Linked DNA regions of Homo sapiens. The protein of the gene in region 1 interacts with the protein of each later gene in a pairwise test. Each region holds a gene or a part of one and is shown in the gene's direction. Other genes may lie near its edges. The genes, in order: IREB2 and USP53.

Region 1 (3,822 bases):
ATTTTTTAGGAGAGTTTTTATCATTTAGAAGAATCACAAAAAGACAAGAACATTGCAGATGGTACAGAAAGTCTCATTTTTATGTGTATACAAAAATATATGTAAATATGCTACTTTTAATAAAAATAAAGTATATGTTGTTTTGTAACCCTTTTTTTCACTTAATATATCATGAACATCTTTCCATGTCATTGAATACAGGTATCCCTTGCTATCTGAATCTACTTGGTTTCTGAGTCAGGGAGCTTGAGTTCAGGTAGAAAGGGATACCTGTACTTCTCTGTGGCTTCTAATAGCTGCACAATATTGCCTGTATGAATGCATTGTGGTTTAGTTAACAGACCTTTGAATATTGAGGCTGATAGTAACTTTTCTCTATTTATAAATAAACTTTGTATGTGCTAATACTTACATTTTTGTGCAAACTTATCATTATATAGAATTGTTGGATTGAAAGTATGTTATTTCCTCCACCCCATCACACGCTTTTATTTTTATACTTTCACTATTTACTGTTGGTTCCAGTCTTTATTTTTTTTTTTTTTTTTTTGAGACAGAGTCTTGCTGTGTTGCCCAGGCTGGAGTGCAGTGGCACAGTCTCAGTTCATTGCGTCCTCCAACTCCTGGGTTCAAGTGATTCTTCTGCCTCAGCCTCTGGAGTAGCTGGGATTACAGGCCCATGCCTTCACACCCTGCTGATTTTTGTATTTTTAGTAGAGACAGGGTTTCGCCATGCTGGCCAGGCTGGTCTCGGAACTCCTGGCCTCAGGTGATCCACCTGCCTTGGCCTCCCAAAGTGTTGAGATTACAGGCATGAACCACTGCACCCGGTCTGGTTCCAGTCTTTACCTTGGACTAAAAAGAACAAAAACTCACTCAAGTAAAAAATAGGTTGCAGTTTCCAGACATCCAAAGACAAAGGAAGAAAGCATAGTCAAGTTTCAGGGAACCAGAATTTCTAAGCCAGAGGCAGTGTTCTGTTTGTCACTTAAAGGCTGCCTGGTTTCCTTATTTTCTGTTTCTTTTTGAATATCCAGTCTTCCATCTCTACAGCCTACTTCACTTACTCATTTTTGTATAATGCCCAATATGGCCACTGCTGACCATTCTTGTATGTTATGACTGGATTACTAACCGGTTAAGAGTGTACCTCTAGGTGACTCTTTTACTTGTTTTGTTTTGTTTGTTTTGTTTTTTCCCTCAGGGTCTTGCTCTGTTGCCCAGGCTGGAGTGTAGTGGTTCGATCATGGCTCACTGCAGCCTGGACCTCCCGGGCTCAAGTGATCCTCTTTCCTCAGTCTCCCAAGTAGTTGGGACTACAAGCACATGCCATCATGCCTGGCTAAATTTTAAATGTTTTGTAGAGACAGGGTCTCCCTACATTGCCTAGGCTGGTCTTGAATCCTGGCTTCAAGTGATCCTTCTGCCTCAGCCTCCCAAAGTGCTGGGGTTACAGGTGTGATCCATTGTATCCAGCTCACCTGTTGTTTTAACCTATTTTGACTGCACTTGTCAGGAGTCTATTGCCGGTCTGGTGATCTTGCTGGTAGAGACACAAATCTGTTCATCTTGTCTTTTATGTGGACTCTTGAAAAGACTGGGTTGGGTAAGCAATGTAACAGTTTGCTTGTAATTTGTACACATAGTACATAACTTTCCAAGGATTACCTTTACCTAACATCATCCTACTAGTCCATGTATAGCCATGTGCTCACCAACCCTCCACATTTCAACTTTGTTTTTATTGCCAATTTCTATTCTAGATTAGGCCCTTTTGGTTCCAAGGAACAGACACTAGCTCGAGTGAAGAAGGATTTATTGTAATGATACAGCGCTCCCCAGGCCAATGAAATGTGGCTGTCTCTCAAGAAAATGGTGGTGGCCCAGAATTAAGGAAGTTGTTTATTATTTTCTCTTAGGAGCTTCAGATTTCTGCCCTGTTCCACTCTTCTGCTTCCTCCACTTCACTATAGACAAGCCTCCTCTGCCTGCTCACTTTGTACATGGCCTCAAATGGCAACCTCAGTCCCTAGCTTAGCTCTTAACACCTTTCCAGTTCAGTCTCTCTGTGTCCTGATTACACATTTCTGAGAGGTGAATCTAATTGCCCCAGTGTCTCCTTTCTCACAAGACTTTTGGTCATCAGCCTACCAGGGGATTGGCTTTTGCGTCGCTGCTGTAGCCAAGGAGGCCACAGGCCACCGAGAACTGTAGCAGTTTGGACAGGCACCATGAAGGACATCTGTTGTATAGTGTTAGCAAAGAATGCCAGTTTACATGCTTACCAGTGAATGAGAAGAATATGTGTTTCTGCACCTTCATCAATAGTAGATATTATTTTTCTTGTTGGCTCAATTTCTGTCAGTGAATGAAGAGAAGAAAAAAAACTTTCTTCTACATTAAATTGGGGGGTTTATTGTGAAGATTTGAAGGAAATAAGGAAATTGAGGGGATCTGAGTGCGTGGTCAGATCAGACTCTTTGTTCCCTTCAGTAGGCATGCATAGAACCCATGATTCTGGCTTAGCTGATTTTCCCTATTTCTGCTTTCCTTTCTTTTTCTTTTCTTTCTTTCTTTTTTTTTTTTTTTGAGACAGGATCTCTCTTTGTTACTCAAGCTGGGGTACAGTGATGCAGTCATAGTTCACTGCATCTTCAACCTCCTGGACTCAGGCAATCCTCCCATCTCAGCCTCCCACTACAAGAAGACACCACTACACCTGGCTAATTTTTTTTTTTTTTTTGAGACGGACTCTTGCTCTGTCACCCAGGCTGGAATGCAGTGGCACCGTCTCGGCTCACTGCAACCTCCGCCTACCAGGTTCAAGCAATTCTCCTGCCTCAGCCTCCTGAGTAGCTGGGATTACAGGTGCGTGCCACCATACCTGGCTGATTTTTGTATTTTTAGTAGAGATGGCATTTCACCATGTTGGCTAGGCTGGTCTCAAACTCCTGACCTCAGATGATCCACCTGCCTCGGCCTCCCAAAGTGCTGGGAGTACAGGCGTGAGCCACCACTCCCGCTCTGATTTTTTTTTTATCTTTTATAGAGACGGGAGTCTCCTGAACTCCTGACCTCAAGCAGTCTTCCTGCCTTGGCCTCCCAGTGTGCTAGGATTACAGGCGTGAGCCACCATGCCCGGCCCATTATTCTGCTTTTCTTTTTCTCTTGGTTCTTTTTTGTTTCCATCTGTTTTCTGCCTTCTCCCTAAGTCAAGTTCAAGGTATCACAGAACGAGGCTGAGGCAGCCTATTGGACATGACATTTGTGCTTGGCGAACTCCCTGTGCCACTGGCCAGACTGTAAATTGGTTGTCTGTTGGAAGGCTGGCTCCAGGTCCCAGCTATTCATGCCAGGATGGCAAGGCTACACAGAGCCCACCAGCAATTGGTATAGAAGGAACTTTTTAGAAAGAGGGCTGTGGTATAGGCATTCTGAGGACGTGCCAGTACAGGTGAAAAAACAAAATCTTATGCAGGAATCTGTTTTGTTTTCTGCTTCCTCAGACTCTCTCAATGGCAATGTATGTATGTATGTATGTATATATTTATTTATTTGAGACAGAGTCTTGCTCTGTCATCCCAGCTGGAGTGCAGTGGCATGATCTCAGCTCACTGTGACCTCTGTCTCCTAAGTTGAAGTGATTCTCGTGCCTCAGCCACCCAAGTAGCTGGGATTACAGGTGCACGCCACCACGCCCGGCTGATTTCTATATTTTTAGTAGAGATGCGGTTTCACCATGTTGGCCAGGCTGGTCTCGAGCTCCTGGCCTCATGTGATCTCCCTGCCTCAGCTTCCCAAAGTGCTGGGATTACAGCCGTG
Region 2 (3,822 bases), on another chromosome or scaffold:
TTGCAGGTTATACATTTTTTAAAATTAATAATAAGAATACCATAGATACCATGTACAGTATATAGAATATTTAGGCAAATAATATTCTGTGCTCTTCCAGGTTAACTCATATCCTCTATCAGGAATTGTTGAACCAAAAGCCCATGATTAGAACTGTGGTCTGTGGTTAGAATTGAGTTTTAATATAATTGGTTTTCTTTGTGATCTTAGTATTTTTTTTTCTTTTTCTTTTTTTTATGCTATGAATTTTATTTTGTTCATTTACAAACATTATTCATAGGGGGCTTCATTAGGCCACCAAAGATGTCCATGATACAAGAAAAGGCTACAAACCATTGCATCTGGCTAAAGAATTATGATTTTACATGAGACTTCAGAAGAGTTGCTTCATATACTCTGCAGTTCATCAGAATTTTTTCTGCAAAATAAACCTTATTCCAATATCTTAGCTATTTTTATGAACAAAATCAGTTATTTGAGGTGTCATGGTATTTTTGAATTAATTTGAAGATAACATTAGTTTTCAATTTTACACATATTACAAAAAAGAAGTTTTAAGAAATACCCTTCCTTTGGAAGTTTTTTACTGCTGCGCTTTTCTGAGTTAGAAGTATTGAATAAACATTATTGACCTCCTATTGTATGCTAGGCATAGTGCTAAACACTAGAAAGTCAAAAGTTAATTAGACAATGTTGGCTGGGTGCTGTGGCTCACGCCTGTAATCCTAGCACTTTGGGAGGCTGAGGCAGGCGGATCACTTGAGGCCAGGAGATTGAGACCACCCTGGCCAACATGGTGAAACCCTATCTGTACTAAAAAATACAAAAATTAGCCAGGCGTGGTGGTGCACACCTGTGGTCCCAGCTACTAAGGAGGCTGAGGCAGGAGAATCACTTGAACCCAAGAGGCGGAGGTTGCAGTTAGCTGAGATTGTGCCGTTGCTCTACATCCTGGGCGACCGAGTGAGACTCTGTCTAAAAAAAAAAAAAAATCATTAAGTAGTTATTTTTCTGAAAACTTATACTTTGGTTGAAAATTTCTAAATCAAGTCTCTGTTGCTGACACTTACTTCAGTCACTTTATCTTTCTTTCTGATCCATTGGCTGTTAACATTTTAACTCATTTTCTCCTTCTCTCCTTTCTAGTCCAGAAAGGTTTTGTAAATGAATATTTACAACAATTCTGTGGTGAAAATCCACTTATAATGTGAAGTATTCCCAAACATTCATTTTATAAATTAGGTTTTTCATATGCTAGATATTCTTAAACTAGGATAGCTCCGTAACAAAATTGCTTATGATTTACTAAGAACAGCTACTAAAATTTTAAAATTAAGAAATTGATATTTCATTGAACAATTTATCTGATCTCATTAATCTGAATTAAAGCAATGGTTAAGTTTAATATATCAGTTTAAGGTATTTCCTTAAAGATAGCAAAATGGAGTATAAAATATATAATACAGCGTCTGCTTTTTTCTAAATCCTTGTTGACATTGTTAAAAATCATTTTACGTGGAAGATAATGTTATTATAATTAGCCTGCATTCGTTGAATGCCTATGTTTTGGCCATTTATTAGGTATTTTATACATGGTTTATGATTCTCACAGTAGCCCTATGATTTTGATTATAGATGATGAAACTGATAGATTTTTAATGATTGAGTAGTTGAGCAATGTGTTGTAAACTTTATATCAGAGGAGGAATAAAATATCTATGGGAATTATAAGGTCACTATCAGGGTATGGATTCCATCCTTGTCAAGAAGCCATCAGGGTATTCTTTGCCCATCAGATACCTCATTCTTTGGCTTTTTCTTAACTCCTCAGCCTGCATAATAAACTGTTGCCCCTCTCATGGTGCCCCTCCCCATACTTAGGTGAGCAGATTGAGCCCTAAATTTTTCCTCCTATATGATGCTACCATATAGGCATGAGATAATGCTCCTCCTTTGTCAGTGTAGTACTGACACTGACCTACCTGCCAGATGGTAGGAAATTGTCCTATACTTTAGTGCCTAGGTTGTCTTTGTTAGGAACACTGTTTTTTCCAAAGGGTTTGTTGTTTGAGATTTTACTTTGTTTCCTGAGCTTCCTTTAATAAATATTTGATGAAAACTTAACCATGCACTGTGTTCTGTTCTAGATGCTTGGGATTTGCTTTACATTCTAAGTGGATTTGGAGAAGAGACAATAAAGAATAAGCAGTCAATTCTATAATATATTTAGAAGGAGAAAAGTGCCAAGGAGGAATGAAAAAGTAGAACAAGGTAAGAGGAATTTGGAAAGCGTGGTAGAGATTGTGATGGTTTGCAATTTTAAATAAGTGTAGGCCTCATTTAAGTGACTTTTTTGGCAAAGCAATTATGAAGGGAGGGAGGGCAAAGCCATGTGGGCGTTATGGGGGGAATGTATTCCAGGCAGGGGAATGGCCAGTGCAAACAATATAGAGAACAGAAGTTTGTATAGTGTGCAGGAATGAGAAGGAGGCTGATGTGGCTGGAATGGGAAAGCCAAAGGTCAAGTAGTTAGATGAGGGGCTGGGCAGATAGTGACATTATGATTTAATTTTAGAAAGATCTCTGTCTGCTCTCCAGAATAGACTTATATGTTACTGTGTAAAGGGTAGAAGCCAGGAGACAAGCTGCTATTTTTTTAATCCACACAAGATGTGATGATGGCCAAGACTAGAATTGTTGAAGTGGAGGTGGTGAAAAGTGGTCAGATCCTGAAATATGACAGAAAAAGGAGTCAAAGATGACATCAAGATATTTGTTCTCAGCAACTGGAAAGATAAAGTTGCCATTGGCTGAGATGGGGAGGAAGGTATAGATAAAGTAAGAGTTCAGTCTGGGGCTTTGTCAAGGCAAATAAATGTTAGGTTATTGCTGGCTTGACATAATTTTCTTCTGGAGATCATGTCTTAAAAGTAGACTGCTGTAAGCCATTTTCTTTAATGACCATGTCCTATATTCTGGATACATGTGTATGCTTGTCTTTTGCTAGTTAGTTACTAGTGGAAACTAGTGAATAGGTAAAAGCAACATGAAATATAGCACGGTTTTTTGTTAGACACAAAGAAATAGAGCAAAAAAGTGGAAACATTGAAAATTACTTAAAACTTACTGTTTTTTTGTTGGCAGTATTATAGTCTTTTTTCTTATTAATTTTATTTTCTGTGTTTTATAAATTTTCTACTGTAGTCTTCTCTAATTCCTCCATTTCTAGAGTGACAATGGTTTTACACATCAAAGAATATTTATTCTTCAATTATACCTTCCTTACTATAATCCTTTAGCTTTATAAACACAGTTACTTCTGTAATGAAAGATATATTTTTTCTTTTTTCTGACACTATCTACTTGAAGATGAAGAGTTTTTTTGTATTACTTCAACTTGGTATAACTCTTCTGTTTGCTATCTAGTTATCTAAAATAAAATCTTAAATACTTCTAGTAAGATGAGCAGTTGTAGCATATCATCAGAAAGTCCTCAGTGTATCTTTGAGGTGCTATATTGTTAGTGAAAAGATGTTAATATGAAGTTTTACTTTACAGTTTGATGGCTAGGACTGTGTACTATTAAGAACATATTTGCAGTGATTCTGTGCTAATATGGAATTATGGATATTTCTAATTTTCTTTATGTAGTATTTCTGTGGTATTTCAGAAATCTAATGAACAAGTACTGTTTGATAATCAAAAAAATCCATACACATAAAAGAACAAAGAGTCTCATGGCTTTATCAACTATTATATTAGTTTCCTAGGGCTGTTGTAACAAAGAACCACAAACTGGGTGGCTTAAATGACAGAAATTTA

The links.
Region 2: the proteins of IREB2 (region 1) and USP53 interact in a two-hybrid assay, tested with the Homo sapiens proteins (one large-scale study listed by BioGRID and IntAct).

Annotation. Positions count from the first base shown.
Region 1 is NC_000015.10:78,444,606-78,448,427, forward strand, and holds part of IREB2 (iron-responsive element-binding protein 2), read left to right. Parts: intron 1-3,822. UniProt on the Homo sapiens protein: RNA-binding protein that binds to iron-responsive elements (IRES), which are stem-loop structures found in the 5'-UTR of ferritin, and delta aminolevulinic acid synthase mRNAs, and in the 3'-UTR of transferrin receptor mRNA.
Region 2 is NC_000004.12:119,215,403-119,219,224, forward strand, and holds part of USP53 (ubiquitin carboxyl-terminal hydrolase 53), read left to right. Parts: intron 1-2,147; 5' UTR 2,148-2,271; intron 2,272-3,822. UniProt on the Homo sapiens protein: Deubiquitinase that mediates 'Lys-63'-linked deubiquitination of tight junction proteins, such as MARVELD2 and LSR, and which is involved in the survival of auditory hair cells and hearing.